Regions from separate parts of the Homo sapiens genome. Here region 2 is linked to region 1. The links come from fine-mapping of genetic effects on gene expression. Tissue or cell type: adrenal gland. Region 1 holds a variant in brackets; the other region holds the start of a gene. All regions are shown on one strand. Distances are between the middles of the regions.

Evidence for each region. PIP is the estimated chance that this variant, and not a neighbour inherited with it, causes the effect.
Region 2: it holds the start of PRPF31-AS1, and the variant in region 1 is fine-mapped to the expression of PRPF31-AS1 in adrenal gland (GTEx, PIP above 0.99).

What each region holds. Positions count from the first base shown.
Region 1 is chr19:54,150,623-54,158,835 of GRCh38, forward strand. CNOT3 (CCR4-NOT transcription complex subunit 3) reads left to right here. Exons shown (of 18, transcript NM_014516.4): 14 at 1,604-1,703; 15 at 1,806-2,004; 16 at 2,245-2,377; 17 at 3,093-3,218; 18 at 4,687-5,059. The coding sequence ends at 4,785. LENG1 (leukocyte receptor cluster member 1) reads right to left here. Exons shown (of 4, transcript NM_024316.3): 2 at 7,660-7,839; 3 at 6,141-6,403; 4 at 4,539-5,318. The coding sequence ends at 5,099. It overlaps LOC102724273 (a long non-coding RNA gene), which reads right to left and starts at 1,605. Exons shown (of 4, transcript XR_001754001.3): 1 at 1,092-1,605; 2 at 1-56. The variant T/TC (reference allele first, on the strand shown) is at 4,228.
Region 2 is chr19:54,118,308-54,126,307 of GRCh38, forward strand. It overlaps PRPF31-AS1 (PRPF31 antisense RNA 1), which reads right to left and starts at 4,335. Exons shown (of 4, transcript NR_186329.1): 1 at 4,185-4,335; 2 at 3,756-4,099; 3 at 3,529-3,608; 4 at 1,203-2,085. It overlaps PRPF31 (pre-mRNA processing factor 31), which reads left to right. Exons shown (of 14, transcript NM_015629.4): 2 at 1-148; 3 at 266-326; 4 at 3,553-3,636; 5 at 4,190-4,287; 6 at 5,147-5,253; 7 at 5,442-5,611; 8 at 6,192-6,349.

The DNA.
Region 1 (8,213 bases):
TGCGCGCCCAGGCTGTCCAGGTCCAAGTCTTGGCATTGTCCTTTCTGTGCCTTCATCTGGGAAACGGCAATAGTCACGATTATACCTACTATGTAGGGTTATTTGGAAGACTAAATCATCCTCATAAAGCTCTTGGAACAGTTTCTGGCCCAACAGAAGCATTAATTTTTTTTTTTTTTCTTTTTTGAGACAGAGTCTTGCTCTGTCACCCAGGCTGGAGTGCAGTGGTGCAATCTCAGCTGAATGCAACATCCGCCTCCTGGGTTCAAGCGATTCTCCTGCCGCAGCCTACTGAGTAGCTGGGATTACAGGCGCCTGCCACCACGCCAGGCTAATTTTTATATTTTTAATAGAGATGGGGTTTTGCCATGTTGGTCAGGCAGGTCTTGAACTCCGAACCTCAGGTGATCCACCCACCTTGACCTCCCAAAGTGCTGGGATTACAGGTGTGAGCCACCGTGCCCGGCCCAAATTTTAGAAGTAGGTGGACAGGATATTTATAGTGCGTGCATTTTTCTGGAAAAAGGGAAACAGCAGCTTTGAGATTTTCAGAAGGGGTCCATATCTTTTAACACCACCAACAACAAAAATGAATCGCTGGGGTGGGTGGTCGGGAACCATGGCAAGGTTTGGAGTAGAGAAGGAACAACATGACTTCATTGGAAAGGTCCCCTGGGGCTGGTGAGGACAGGATAGAGGGAGGGTGGTCTGGGCAGGAGAGGACAGGCCTGGGCTGTGTGGGACATGGTGGCACGACAGGGAAGGGAGCCATCCAGTGGGGTTTAGAAGCAGGACGGATAGCTGGGCGTGGTGGCTCACACCTGTAATCCCAGCTCTTAGGGAGGCAGAGGCGGGAGGATAGCTTGAGCCCAGGAGTTTGAGACCTGCCTGGGCGATATAGCGAGACAGGATGGATAAGCCTTGGCGACTGACTCGTTGTGGAGAGTCCAGCACAGGGCTGGGGTTTGGGACAGCTGCACGTGGCTGGAGGAGATGGGAGGAACCAGCCCTGACTTTGGGGAACAGAAGCCTGCTGTAACCTTTGTAATAGGAAACGAGGCTGTGGCTGCGGGGCTGGAGACCCAACCTACCTGTTTCCAGCAAGGAGACTGAAGCCTAGCCGGGCTGGGCCCACCCCGATTCCAGTCACCCCATGCCAGTCACAGGCAGACAGCTGAGCATGTAGACCTCCTGCCTCCTTCAAGACAGGCGGGAGCTCTCCCAGCGTGTAGGTGTCCCTAGTGAAGGAGCGTGTACTATTGGCACATCCTTTGACAAAAATGGTAGCGCACTGTACATATTCTGCAGGTTGGCGTTTACTTCTGTAGTATGTCACGAACTTGTATTTTGAAAATCTCGGCGTAGTATTCCATGCTGCAGAGTCCCACTCACGAGACGTTCCTCTGCTGATGAATGCGTCGTGGTCTCCGATTGTTTCCCTACAGTTTGATGCTTTTACCTGTCATGGGTAGATTGTGGGGAGTGGGTCGTTGGCCCTCCACGGCCCCCAAACAGGGCAGGTGAGAGCATCTGGGGCCTGTGTCAGGCTGCACTTGCTCCTGCAGCCCAAGTGCTCAGGCCAGGCCTCTTGTTTCCTCCCCAGGCCCCTGAGCCTCTGAGCTCCTTGAAGTCCATGGCGGAACGGGCAGCCATCAGCTCTGGCATTGAGGACCCTGTGCCAACGCTGCACCTGACCGAGCGAGGTGAGGGACCCAGGATGGTGGGGAAGCAGCGGGCCAAAGAGGAGGGGCTGCCCCTGACCCATCCTCACCACTGAGGGGGCCGGACCCCCACCCTCCCCACAGACATCATCCTGAGCAGTACATCAGCACCTCCGGCCTCAGCCCAGCCGCCCCTGCAGCTGTCAGAGGTGAACATACCGCTGTCGCTGGGTGTCTGTCCACTGGGCCCTGTGCCCCTCACCAAGGAGCAGCTCTATCAGCAGGCCATGGAAGAGGCCGCCTGGCACCACATGCCTCACCCCTCTGACTCTGAGCGTATTCGGTGAGGGGCCACAGGGAAGGGGGATGGTCTGGGACTTGAGTCTTACGGAGGAGGCAGTGGCTGAACCTGTGAGGCTGTGGGTAGAGCACCAGGCCCCTGACTTGGGCTCTCCACTGAAGGTCAGCACCGCCCTGGGTCTTTCTGTACCACCTCCCCCCGCAGGGATGCATGTCTGAGCACCCTTTTGATCACGACAGGACTAGTAGGCAGCTGGCACTGACCTTCCTGTTGCTCTCACAGGCAGTACCTCCCCCGGAACCCCTGTCCGACGCCCCCCTACCACCACCAGATGCCACCCCCACACTCGGACACTGTGGAATTCTACCAGCGCCTGTCGACCGAGACACTCTTCTTCATCTTCTACTATCTGGAGGTACAGCAGGGCCCCCGGGGCAGCCTCGGGCCCCCCGGCTTCGCCGCCACCGCCGCCGTCCCCCCTCGGGCTGGAGGGGTGAGGTGGGTGCCCCACTGCGGCCACTGGGACCGCACCCCCTCCCTATTCCCACTCCTGGGCCCCTGCCCCAAATCCACCTGTCCCCGTCCCCGCCTTCCAGCCCAGAGATGTTAGAACTGCTTGGGTTGACAGCGAGGCTGGTCCACTGAGGCACACCTCAGCCCCGCTTCCAGTTGCCCACTGGCTCACCCGCGGCCCCTCCCCAGCCCTGCTCCAGCAGCCCCAGTCTAGGCCGACCCCACTCTGCTCATTGGCACATTCTCAGGCCTCCCTGGAGACCACTGGGGAGCTGTCCAGCCCCCTCCCAACCCCAGTGAGTCATGAGTGACCTCCACCCTCATCCCCACTTGGGAAATTTTCTAAATTGCCTCCTCTCTCAGCTCTCATCACACATTAGTTTTTCTTCCTTCTCAAAGCTTCTCTGAAAGCAATTTTCACCTCCTGTCTCATTTTCCTTCTCCTGATCAGCATTGGTATGTTCTGTGCCCCCAGCCCCATCTCCAAGAGGATTGTCCAGCCCAACTGTGGTCTGTGGCGGGGGCCGGGGTTCAGCCCTGATGTCCTGCCCCATTCCCCTGGCTCCCCACCCAGTTTGGGGGCCCCCTGATCCCCCTCTCCACTGTTCCTCCCCCAGGGCACTAAGGCACAGTATCTGGCAGCCAAGGCCCTAAAGAAGCAGTCATGGCGATTCCACACCAAGTACATGATGTGGTTCCAGAGGCACGAGGAGCCCAAGACCATCACTGACGAGTTTGAGCAGGTGAGGGCCCCGCCCCCTCTCTTCCCGCTGCTAGGGTTGGGGTAGAGTCCCCAGGCTCCAGGCAGCCCCTGCTGGCCTCTGCTCCCTTGCCTCCACCTTTCAGCTGGCGCAGTCCCTCAGCCTGACCAAGTACTCCTCCCTCTGGCTGTCTGCTCAGCCTGGAACACCGCCCTCTCATCCTCCACTTGGCCAGCTCCTAGGCCTCCTGTAGGTCTCAGCCCAAATGTCCCTTCCTCAAAGAAACCTTCCTGGAGCCACCCAGCCCAGTGCCTCCCCTTTGCAGTGCTGGGCACACTCGCCTGGGGTGTGGGATTTTCCCAGTATGTGTCCCTGCACCAGGCTGTGGGCTCTGCTGCCGAGGGACCTTGATGGCCCCCACTTCACCTCCAGGTCCCAGCACTCAGCAGGGCAGGGGCTCAGTGCGGAAACTATTTTTTTTGAATGGGCTTCTCAAGTTCTAATACTGGGAAATTCCTGCTGCTTGCAAACACTCTGGAACCAACCTACCTGGGTTTCAGCCCAGTCCAGCTGGGCGACTCTAGGCAAGTCACTCGAACCTCTGTGTCTCAATTAACTTATCTGTAAAAATGGGGGGAAGACCACCTACCTAATGCAGTTGTTATGAAGATTAAATGAGTTAATAACATGTAAGTACTTAATGGTGACTGCTACATAGTCAGTGTCATGGATTTTTTTTTTCAAATTACTTTCAGTTGGTGTGTTCTACAGTGATGTTTTTTTCCACCAAATACTTCCCTGATGCCGAGCCCCTTCATGGGGATGAAGTAGTACAAGGTCCTTGTCCTCAGAGAACTCAGTCCCCTCTCCTGGTTCTCCCAGGTTGCCATCTTTGAAGCACTTAAGACATTCATTTAGAACCTAGGTCCTCTCCCATTGTGTCCTCAGATGTTAACCACAGACTTCCTGTCCTTTCCTGGTTTGGCCCAAAACCATCCTCCAAGTTAGTACATTTCAGGGCATCCAGTCATTCAGAAATTCCCACACCACT[T/TC]CGTCACCAATAAAATGTCCCTGCAGAGTGCTTGGATTTAGACTCTGAGACTGTTCCATTCTCTAGAACAAGGGTGACAGTACCCACTGCCTCGAGGTCTTTGTGAAGATTAAATGCTAGGCTGTGCATCCTGTACTCACGTGAGAGGTGCTCAAAAGCCACAGCCCTCGAGGAAACGAAGGCTGTGCACTCACACCTGGGGCTGGGGCCCCGTTCTGGCAGCTGGCTTCGGTGGAACCTCTGCGGCCCCCTCCGTTTCCTCCTCGCTGAAGTGGCATGATAACATTTCCTACCCAAGAAGAACCTTGTGAGGATGGATGAGAGTGTGTGCGTGCAGGGCAGCTGGCCCGGTGCCTGACACATCCACAGCCCTAAGAATTGTCCCCTTTGTCTGTTGGTCCGGCCCAGATCCCAGACCACCTCCTCGTCCACTCACTGACCGCCTTCTCCCCCGGCCAGGGCACCTACATCTACTTTGACTACGAGAAGTGGGGCCAGCGGAAGAAGGAAGGCTTCACCTTTGAGTACCGCTACCTGGAGGACCGGGACCTCCAGTGACACCGGCCCCTCCCTCTACCCACCCCCTTCCCCCGCATGCTGATCCCCCTGCCCAGGTGAGGGCCCTGCCCTGGAAGACTGGAGGGAGGCCCCAAGCCACGGGGCATCCCCCTCTCCCAGGAAGCAGGGAGGGGGCCGGGAGGTTTTCCTCTCAGCCCCACCCTGGGGGCCCGGGGGCGAGGGCTGCCCCCTCCTCCCCTCCCCAGTGAGGGACATTTTTTGGTAAACCTATTTTCATTTTGGAAAATATTTATGAATAAATAGTTTTATATGACGGCTGGCAGCAGCGGCCTCTCCTGTACCCCCTCAGGAGTCAGTGAGTAAGGTGAGGGTCCTGCTGGCGGGGGCGCCGGGCCAGCTGGGGGTTGAATTGGGAGTTGTACCGCCGCCGCCGGTCATCCGTCTCGTCTTCTTCCGGCTGACCCTCCTGTAGTGCCCGGCCTTGGACCCGGGCCAGCAGGGCCTCTGCCCGAGACCTCTCAGCTGCTTCCCTCCGCAGACGTTCAGCTCGAAGCTGGTCCAGGGATGGAGGCCTGTGGGGAGAGGAGTGAGGTCAGAAAGCTGGTAGCCCCTAGGAGGCCATTCCCCCAACCTCTCCCATAGAGGGAGCTGCCGCCTGGAAGCCCCGCTGCATCCAGCACACCCCAGCCTCAGCTCCTTAGGCCTGCTGGAAGCAGCCACTTGGTGCTGGGACGCCATGGGCACGTCTCTGGCCTTCCCTTCTGTGGGCTTTGGTCCTCCCCAGTCTTTAAAATCTGATGCTTCTCCAGGTCAAGAAAGCACACTTAGCAGCCCCCTGGCCCTCAGTTTCCCTTTCTAGAGGAAAGAAGACTACAGGCAGTGTACCCCCTCTAGACCAGGGGTGCAGCATCCTGGAGACAGAAGCCTGCTTTTACTCTCTAACCCAGCAGCTCTCAAACTCTTTGGTCTCAGGACCCCTTTATACTCTTAAAAACCAAGGACCCCAAGAGCTTTTGTTTAAATGGGTTCTCTTAATATGCTGCAAATCATTAGTGAAAACTAAGAAAGTTTGGACACAAGCATCTGCCATTGGCCATCAGAGTGAGGGTGTCTCCCCATCACACAGCCTCTGGAAACCTGCACTACATGCCTGAGAACACGAGTGGAAAAGTCCACCAGTGTCAGGAAAATAGGCTTGACACCACAGCACCCCGGGAAAGGGTGTCAGGACCCCTAGGGCTCCCTGGACCACATGCTGAGAACCACTTCTCCACCTAGCCAGCCCTTCACGGAGTCCCTGGCTGTCCTGACCAGAGACGCTGCAGTGCCCATGCTGGGCTGCTGCCAAGCCCTGAAGGTCTGGGCCCTGGTCTGCCGAGGTGGGGTCTTCTTACTCCTTGGGTCGCTGCTTCTCAGACCCCTCCTTTTCCTTTCTGCTGCGACTGCCTTCATCACCGCCGTGCTGTCTCTTCTTCCCCAGATGCTTCTGCATCTCCCGCAGAGGGTCCAGACGGCTCTTGATCTTCTCATCTGGGGCTGGGCCGGGCGGGGGGCCCCCTCGCCCTGGGGGTAGCTGGTACCAAGGGGGTTGAGTCTGTGCCTCCGCTGCACTCTGGCCCAGGTATGTCAGGATGCCCAGAGCTTTCTCTTGCCTCTCCTGAGGGGGCCAGGAAATACAAGAGATGTGATATAATCTTTCAAGGTGTCAGGTGTGTCTCCCTGACACAGGTATCTAAGCGAACAGGTATCTAAGGCTTGTTATGAACCAGTTGGACCAGGTGCTGGGGATGGAAGACAAACAGAGGCAAAGCTCCCCCTGGGGGGACAGTAGCAGGTACAGTAACAGCAGGGGAAGGAGGGGACAAGTGGAGCCACTTGAGTGTTCAGAGGCAGGCATCTTTGCAGAGAGACTTGAAGAGAAGCCTGAAGGGATCAAGCAAAGCAGAGGAGCGATGGGTGGGGTCAGCAAGTCCAGAGACAGCAGATAAATGACAAGAGCTGATGTACCTCTTTTTTTTGAGATGGAGTCTCGCTCTGTTGCCCAGACTCGAGTGCAGTGGCACGATCTCGGCTCACTGCAACCTCTGCTTCCCAGGTTCAAGCAATCCTCCTACCTCAGCCCCCCGAGTAGCTGGGATTACAGGCACACACCACCATGCCCAGCTAATTTTTGTATTTTTAGTAGAGACGGGGTTTTGCCATGTTTGGCCAGGCTGGTCTTGAACTTCTGACCTCAGGTGATCCACCCACGTTGGCCTCCCAAAGTGCTGGGATTACAGGCGTGAGCCACCATGCACAGCCACTGATGTACCTTTTACACTTGATCTTAGCCAAAAAGCAAGAGGCGATTGATTCACTTTTTGTTTGATTGTTTTGAGATGGGGTCTCGCTCTGTCACCCAGGCTGGAGTGCAGTGGCGCAATCTCGGCTTACTGCAGCTTCCACCTCCTGGGTCAAGCGATTCTCCTGCTTCAGCCTCCCTGGGATTACAGGCGCGCACCACCATGCCCGGCTAATTTTTTTTGTATTTTTAGAGATACCATGTTGACCAGGCTGGTCTTGAACTCCTGACCTCAGGTGATCCACCCGCCTCAGCCTCCCAAGGTGGTGGGATTACAGGCGTGAGCCACAGCCGGCTGATTTAAATTTTTAAAAGCCCATCAGGTTTGAGACTCCTCCAGTTTGGAGAACTGAGCGGTTTGCCCAGCAGCTGGGGACCTCTAGCATCTACCTCCAACCCCTGTGGGCGCCCAGACGGCAATAGCCAACGCTTTTTGAGTGTCATGCCTTGGTATGGTCCTAAATTCTGTGTGTTCACTCTTGTTTGACCTTGGTCACAACCAATGGCTAAAGTGCCCCCTCCCTCCAACTCGATTCATGGCCCCTCTGATGAAGTGGGTGAGGCCAGCTTACTTTCTCCTGTCGCTTTTCTTCCTTGTACTCTTTATTGCCTCTGATCACTCCTTTCCCTTCCTCCAGCAGCTCCCGAAACAGGTCCACAGGGCCAGAACCTGGGGCTCCCGCCTCTGCTGCTTCAAGCTCAGGCAGTGAGTTCTGATGTCTGGCTTTCTTCCGTAGGAATTCTGTACGGGCCTGGGGAGAAAGTTATAGGCAGGACATTCAGAACCTAGAGGTAATTCAAGAACTGTGAGTCTGGTGCCCACCACAGAAAATGGCAGTCCAGGGTGCTGGGGTTATGAGAAAGGGAGCACTAGGCGCCTAAAAGAGGCACCTGTCCTAGCTGGGGGTGAGGGTAGGCAGATGAGGCAACGCCTGGGTTTTGTAAACTCCCTTTCAAATAGTAAACCACGGGTCATCAAGGATGTATGGGAGGAGGTCCCTGGCCTAAACCAAAGGGGTTCCTAACCTCAAGTGAGACAATTAAAACAGCCATAAAGGTATGCATTAGGCCAGACGATCTGAATTCTAGCCATGGCTCCAAGTGACTACCCCAAGTCTGCTGAAGC
Region 2 (8,000 bases), 32 kb before region 1:
TCTCGAAGAGGCAGCAGAAGAGGAGGAAGGAGGAAGCTATGGGGAGGAAGAAGAGGAGCCAGCGATCGAGGATGTGCAGGAGGAGACACAGCTGGATCTTTCCGGGGATTCAGTCAAGACCATCGCCAAGCTATGGGATAGTAAGATGGTAAGAGGACAAGAGGTGTTCCTAGCAGGGGGCTCTAGACAGAATCTCCCAGAAGGGGGTGATACAGGCTTCTTTTTGAAGAGTGCTGGATTCTGACTGTCTTCTCCTTTCCTACAGTTTGCTGAGATTATGATGAAGATTGAGGAGTATATCAGCAAGCAAGCCAAAGCTTCAGAAGGTGCTTCCTCCCACTCTGTGCCCCTCCCCATCTCCTGTCTCTCCTGCCAGGCCCCCTGGCTCCCTGGCTGCTTGTGGCTGGGTATATCTCCTTCTCAGCCTTTTCCAGAGCCTTCTTTTTTTTTTGTTTCACCCCAACCCGTTCCCTTTTCCACTAAATATATATTGCATTGTAAAGCTCATGCTTCTTAAGTCCTTCCTGTGTGCTGAGCTTACTGATCATGATAGGACTCAGCTTGAGGTTTCCCAGACTTCACTGATTCACATGACCGGTTACAGGGTTTTTGCCACATCTATAAGCCGCTTATCCTATTATTTGCTTAACATATTCTTTGAGTCTAGGACTTTTTTTCTTAAATTTATCTGAGAAGGAAGCAAATTGCTACCATGAATGGAAAACTGGTATCATTTGGCAAAGACAAAGTCACTGTATAAAAATAGATATATAATTATTTAGGAACCACCTAAGGCCGGGCGCCGTGGCTCACGCCTGTAATCCCAGCACTTTGGGAGGCGGAGGCAGGTGGATCATGAGTTCAGGAGATCGAGACCATCCTGGCTAACACGGTGACACCCCGTCTCTACTAAAAATACAAAAAATTAGCCAGGCGTGGTGGCGGGTGCCTGTAGTCCCAGCTACTCAGGAGGCTGAGGCGGGAGAATGGCGTGAACCTGGGAGGCGGAGCTTGCAGTGAGCCGAGATCGTGCCACTGCACTCCAGCCTGGGCGACAGAGCAAGACTCCGTCTCAAAAAAAAAAAAAATAACCTAAAACCTTTTCTCATGCCCAAATTGAGAGAACACTAGCTTATCTCATGAGTGCTCAGACTCACTCTTAAGAGGGCAGTCCTGTTACCATTCCTATTCTTTTTTTTTTTTCCTTGAGATAGAGTCTCCCTCTGTCGCCCAGGCTGGAGTGCAGTGATGTGTTCTTGGCTCATTGCAACCTCCACCTCCCGGGTTCAAGCGATTCTCCTCCCTCAGCCTTATGTATAGCTGGGATTACAGGTATGCAACACCATGCCTGGCTATTTTGTATTTTTTAGTAGAGATGGGGTTTCACCATGTTGACCAGGCTAGTCTCGAACTCCTGACCTCAAGTAATCCGCCCACCTCGGCCTCCCAAAGTGCTGGGATTACAGGCATGAGCCACTACGCCCAGCCTTCCCATTCTTCTTGAATGGAATTTGTTGATGACAGGAAGCCATAGGAGGTTTCTGGGGAAAGAAGTGTAGTGAGAGGGCAGAGTTTCGGGAGACTCACTGCTTGCTTTCTTTAACGTTTACCTGGGCACCCAGTTGAATCGCCCAGGTCTTTGCTCTCAAAGTACTCAAGGTCTAGTGGAAGAGGCAGGCCAGGTTCCAGACAGCTATCAGTGGTGGTACCAAGCTGGGGACACCGGAGCCACAGGAGGGACTGGCTGACCCTGCCCCAGGTGTCAGGAAGAATCGATAGCTGAATTGGACTGTAGAGCATGAATGCATGTGCCAGGCAAAGAAAGGGAGAAGGGGGCCCAGGGAAAGACAGCGGCAGGCCCGGGGCCTCAGATATCCGGAGAGAGAATCCTGCAGAGTTCCAGATGCCAGGCCAAGGAATTTCTCCCTCCAGAGGGTTATGGGACACAGAAAGTGACATTTCCTGATGTCAGGCCAGGCTCAGGGATGGAGTCAGACCCCGTCACACCCGGTGTCTGGTTGAGGAGGCAGAGGTGAAACATCTCACAAGCTGTGGCAGTCCCTGTTTACTGGAGGTGCACAAGTGCTGCGGGTACACAGAGGAGGCGTCTGATCCTTCCAGAAAGGGAGGGAAGGATTCTGAGTCGCTGCCTGAGTCTTAAGGACTTAAAGAGCCATTTGAGCATCAGGGTTAGGAGTGCAGACTCTGACGCCGCCCTGCCTGGTGTCAGATCTGAGCTCTGCCTTCTACTGGCTGTGACATCAGGCAGTTAGTATTTGCATGACTTTTAAACACAACATCTTTTTGTTTGTTTGTTTTTTGAGACAGGGTCTCACTCTGTCACCCAGGCCAGAATGCAGTGGCACGATCCCAGCTCACTGCAGCCTTGACCTTGTGGGCTCAGGCGTTCCTGCCTCAGCCTCCCAGGCAGCTGGGACCACAGGTGTACACCACCATGCCTGGCTAATTTTTTTTCTTTAATTATGTGTAGAGATGGGGTCTCCCTATGTCGCCCAGGTTGCTCTCCAACTCCTGGGCTCAAGCAGTTCTCCTGCCTCAGCCTCCCAAAGTGCTGGGATTACAGGTATGAGCCACTGTGCCTGACCTCTTATTACTAAAGCACAAAGAAGCGTTTTCCAGAAACAGACGTGGGGTAAGGGATGCTCTGGGGAGAGGGAGCAGCACATGCAGAGGCCAGGAGGGGTCTGGCGCGGTGGCTCACGCCTGTCATCCCAGCACTTTGGGTGGTCAAGGCAGATGGATCACCTGAGGTCGGGAGTTCGAGACCAGCCTGCCCAACATGGTGAAACCCCGTCTCTACTAAAAATACAAACAAACAAAAAAAATTAGCCGGGCATGGTGGCACATGCCTGTAATCCCAGCTACTCAGGAGGCTGAGGCAGGAGAATCGCTTGAACCCAGGAGGCGGAGGTTGCAGTGAGCTGAGATCATGCCACTATACTCTAGCCTGGGCAACCAGAGCGAAATTATGTCTCAAAAAAAAAAAAAAAAGGCTAGGAGGAGTGGGTGTCTGGGGCACTGTGATCACTCCTTTATGGCTGGAGTGGAATAAAATGAGGTGTGGTGAGAGGATGGGGCGGGAAGGGCGGGAGGCCAGACTGCAGAGCTGCTGAGTCAGCAAACAGGAACGGGGGAACTCCCTGTGTGCCAGGTGCTGTCCTGGGTACTCGGCTGTGGGTACAGCCAACGCAGGCACAGCACTGGTCCCTGCAGAGCTTCCGGAGTTGGGGAGGCCCTGAATGTCAGTCTGAGGACTCGGTCATTAGCCTTGGGGCTGTGGGGAGCCGTAGGAGGTTTCACACGGTCAGTTCTGGGGTAGATGGGGTCAAGTCTAGACTGGTGTGGAGGGAGAGGGATTGAAGGCAGGAACACAAGTTCAGGGATGTCTGCAGACATCAGCCTGTCCCTGGTTTACTCTTCAGCCCCTCCTTCCTGACCCCTCCCAACTTCATCCTCCGCCTCCTCCAGCTGCGGGACCCGAGAGGGGGTAGGGATTTAGATACTCACACCCATGCCTCCGTGTCCTCACAGTGATGGGACCAGTGGAGGCCGCGCCTGAATACCGCGTCATCGTGGATGCCAACAACCTGACCGTGGAGATCGAAAACGAGCTGAGTGAGTGCTGGGGGGCAGGCGGAGACAGCCCCGTGTGACGTCCCTCACGCCCCCTCTCCCTTCCCCACTGGCCTTTCCCAGGGTCCTGCCCCTAAGCCCAAGCTCAGATCGAGGTTGACCTGCTGTCACAGAGTGGCTGAAATAAGAAGGAAGTGCGTTCTCTCGCGTATGAGTCTGAGGAGCACTCGGGGATGGTGTGGCCGCTTGGCTGCCTGTAGGGCCCCGGCTCTTTCCATCCTGTTGGTCGGCCACCTGCCTCACGGTGCGAGGTGACTGCCCCACCTCCAGCCATCACCTCCGCATTCCCACCAGCAAGGCGCTTCTTTTCTTTAAGAACATGTCACTGCAGCTCACGTTTTACAGACCAGAACTAATTCCCCTGGTCACACCTAGCGGTAAGGACGGCTGAGAAAGGCTGTATGCTGGTGCCCGTGTGCCAGGCCACAAGCCAGGGCTTCAGTTACTAAAGGAAGAAGGGGACATGGGTGTTAGGGCCAACCAGCAGAGTCTACCTTCCATCTCACCCGACAACCTCCTGTCCCGTTTACCCTAGACATCATCCATAAGTTCATCCGGGATAAGTACTCAAAGAGATTCCCTGAACTGGAGTCCTTGGTCCCCAATGCACTGGATTACATCCGCACGGTCAAGGTGAGCGCAGAGAAGGTGGGGTGCTTCTGCTGGCGTGAAGGGGCAGGCGGGGCTCACTCTCGGACCCCCTCCCAGAGGCCTGAGGGTCTGGAGACGATGGAGAGGAGTGGACGAGGGCTCAGTGGTCTGCTCTGCCCAGCGTGGGAGGGACGGAGCCTGGACAGGACTTTCTCAGGGCTCCCCTCCAACCCCAGTCTCCCGAGAGGGCTTCCCCGCTGGCCTGACCCACGCTGCTCCCGCTGTGGTTGGAGCCGGTGGCATTGGAGTTGACATCCGAAGGTTGACACAGGGCAGGCACACGGAGATTTGGGGGAGAGAGACGTCTAAGTGCAGAGAGCTGGAGAGGGAACAAGTGGGGAGGAAGTGAGGCGGGGAAGGAGGGGACGGGGAAGAGGTCGGATCACGTCCAGCCTTTGGGTCTTAGGAGAAAGCCAAGGAAGGGTTTCGGAAAAGAGGGGCAGGTGTGCGTGAGGGCGGGGAGAGGAGGAGGTCCCCACGCATGTCCAGGAAAGGATTAGGATGGCGGTGGGGAAGCCCCTGCAGGGAAGCGAGGCCGCGGATTTGCACTCCGACTTGACGCAGGCCAGAGGCTTGTGAGGCCACAGTCTTTCCAGACGCCACTCTGCCCGGGCTCCGTTTCCAGGTCAGCGAAAGCAGGGCAGATGGTGTGGATGCTTGACGTGGTGGAGGCAGGAATGGTGTGGATGCTTCAGGCGGTGGAGGCAGGAGAGGCCCCCAGTGCAGAGACCCTGACTGTCCCAGTGTCCCTAAGAAGAGACCTGAGGAGGTGCTGAGCAAGAGAGGTTCTCGAGCCTTCCTGAGTTCCCGAGCCTCCCCTATCTTCTCTGCTCGCCCCCAGGAGCTGGGCAACAGCCTGGACAAGTGCAAGAACAATGAGAACCTGCAGCAGATCCTCACCAATGCCACCATCATGGTCGTCAGCGTCACCGCCTCCACCACCCAGGGGTATGTCCGCTTCGAGGGAGGCGCCGGGCCCTAATGGGATTGGGGATTAGGCTGGAGCTACACACGCAGGTGTACACACGCACACACACATACACACATGCACACACACACACAGAACCGAGAGGGCTGGGGCTGGGCACACCAGGCAGGCGGGAGACCCAGGAGGCTGGGCCCACCCGCCCCTGCAGGCAGCAGCTGTCGGAGGAGGAGCTGGAGCGGCTGGAGGAGGCCTGCGACATGGCGCTGGAGCTGAACGCCTCCAAGCACCGCATCTACGAGTATGTGGAGTCCCGGATGTCCTTCATCGCACCCAACCTGTCCATCATTATCGGGGCATCCACGGCCGCCAAGATCATGGGTGAGTCCCCGGGCTGGGTCCCATGGAGCGGGGGTCTGCTGACACTGTGACCTTGGGAAAGCTACATCCTTTTCTGTAGAATGGGGGCTTTGGCACCTGGACCTCAGCACCCCGTCTCCCTGGACATCACAGAGGTCAGCCAGCCTGGCACACAGCAAAGCCTCATCTGTGGGAAAAACACTCACCCACAGCTCCTTCTCCCTCCCCTGTGCCGGAAACCCAGAGATGACCACACCCAGGCCCTGTTGTCAGGGAGCTCCTGGTTTGGTGAAAATGGTTCCAAAACACAGCCATCCCTGGAACGGCGTTAGTGTGGCTTAGCACAAACGTGGTGGTCAGCTTCCTGTTGGGGGCCTCCTCCCTGCACCCCCAGGCCAGCTGCCCTCCCTCTCTGAGCCTCCTTTGCATCTGCCCCTTGCGGAATGGGCCAGGTCGCCCGCCTGGCAGGGCCATCGAGGAATCCAACCAGAACTTCATGTAAAGGTGCCCAGCACACGTCGAGCCCCCAGGCAGATTTACTCACCCCCACCTCTCTGCTTTCTTCTGACCGCCCCCCCTTCCTCCCTCCCTCCCACCGCAGGTGTGGCCGGCGGCCTGACCAACCTCTCCAAGATGCCCGCCTGCAACATCATGCTGCTCGGGGCCCAGCGCAAGACGCTGTCGGGCTTCTCGTCTACCTCAGTGCTGCCCCACACCGGCTACATCTACCACAGTGACATCGTGCAGTCCCTGCCACCGGTGAGCCCACTGCGTCATGGCCCCTCCCCCGGCCCCCCTGGAGCCTTCCGCTGTGCCCAGACAGCCTGAGCAGCCACCCACCATCTGGCCCAGCTGACGGTAGCACTCAGGAGCTGGGAACAGGGTGGCATGGGACGTGAGAGCCAGGGCTCTGCAGCAGACCAGCTCCAGCACCCACCAGTCAGGTGACTGTGGGCAAGAGGCATGAGCGCCCTGTGCCTCAGTCTCCTCCCCTATCAAATGGGAGCACAGCGCCTGCTTCATGAGTTGGGACGAGGGCTCAGTGCACATGAAGCACTTACAGTTCAGGCCTAGCTCACGACAAGCAGCGTCGGGTTAGCGTGCAACTGCTCCGAAGACCACCCTCAGGTTTGACCATTCACTAGAAAGACTCACAGAATCCACTGAGGGCTGCACATCAGCCATGGGGAGAGACACACAGGAGGGGCAGGAGAGGTCACCAACCTCGGAGCTTCCCGGGTCCTCTCCCTGCAGTCGGGACACATCACCATCCCAGCATCGACGCCTGACAGCACACACACAGGCCCGCTAGCCTGGCGGGGCGCAGTGGCTCGTGCCTGTCATCCCAGCACTTTGGGAGGCCGAGGCGGGCAGATCACCTGAGGTCAGGTGTTCGAGACCAGCCTGGCCAACATGGTGAAACCCCATCTCTACCAAAAATACAAAAAACTAGCTGGGTATAGTGGCACACACTTATAATCCCAGCTACTTGGGAGGCTGAGGCAGGAGAATCGCTTGAACCCAGGAGGTGGAGGTTGCAGTGAGCTAAGATCATACCACTGCCCTCCAGCCTGGGTGACAGAGTGAGACTCTGTCTCAAAAAAAAAAAAAAACAAGCAAGACAGGTTCTGGGACAGACAGGCCTGGGTCCAGACCCTGCTCTGTCCAACTGTGGCGAGTTACCTCAGGCTCACGGCCCTGTGCCCTGCCTGGCCTCCCCCAGGGATGGGGAGAACAATAGCACTGATGGCCAAGGCTGGGCAGGCACTTCCTGGCCCCACCCCCCAGCCCTGTGTGGGGTTTTTTTTGTGGTCTTTTCTGCGACCCTTTAGGTCAGGCACTGCTACTGGAACACACCCAGGGAGGCTGGCAGGTCACCCCATCCTGGGAGGAGAGAGAGTGGGCGATAGAACCCAGGACGGGTGGGCCTGGGGCTCGGGGCTCCAGCTGCCTCACTGCACCCCTGCCATCGCCACCGCCTCACAGCCCTGGGCATATGGGTTAAACCTGCCCCAGGGAGCCTGATGTCTTGTCACCCAGGCCTCTGCCTCTTCATTTGGCCATCTCACATCGGTCCAGGCACAGGCCGTAGACACCACAGGCCTGTAAGGGAGGCCAGGGCTGGCCATCGCTTCACTGTGGCTGACAGCTGGGCTCTGTTTGCAGTTTGGATTGGAACCCTGGCTCCATCACCTGCTGGCTGTCTCCCTGGCCACATGACTTGAAGCCTTGGTTTCCACATCTGAAAAGGGGGTGCAATGATCACACCAGCCCGATATTTGAATATTTGATGAGATGATCCGAGGGGCGTGCTTAGCATGGGGCTGGCATCCAGGCCGAGTGCACTCCCCCCGGCGTCTCCACAGTCACCACCGTCCTCGTTGTCAGCGTGCCTTACTGTCATCCTTAC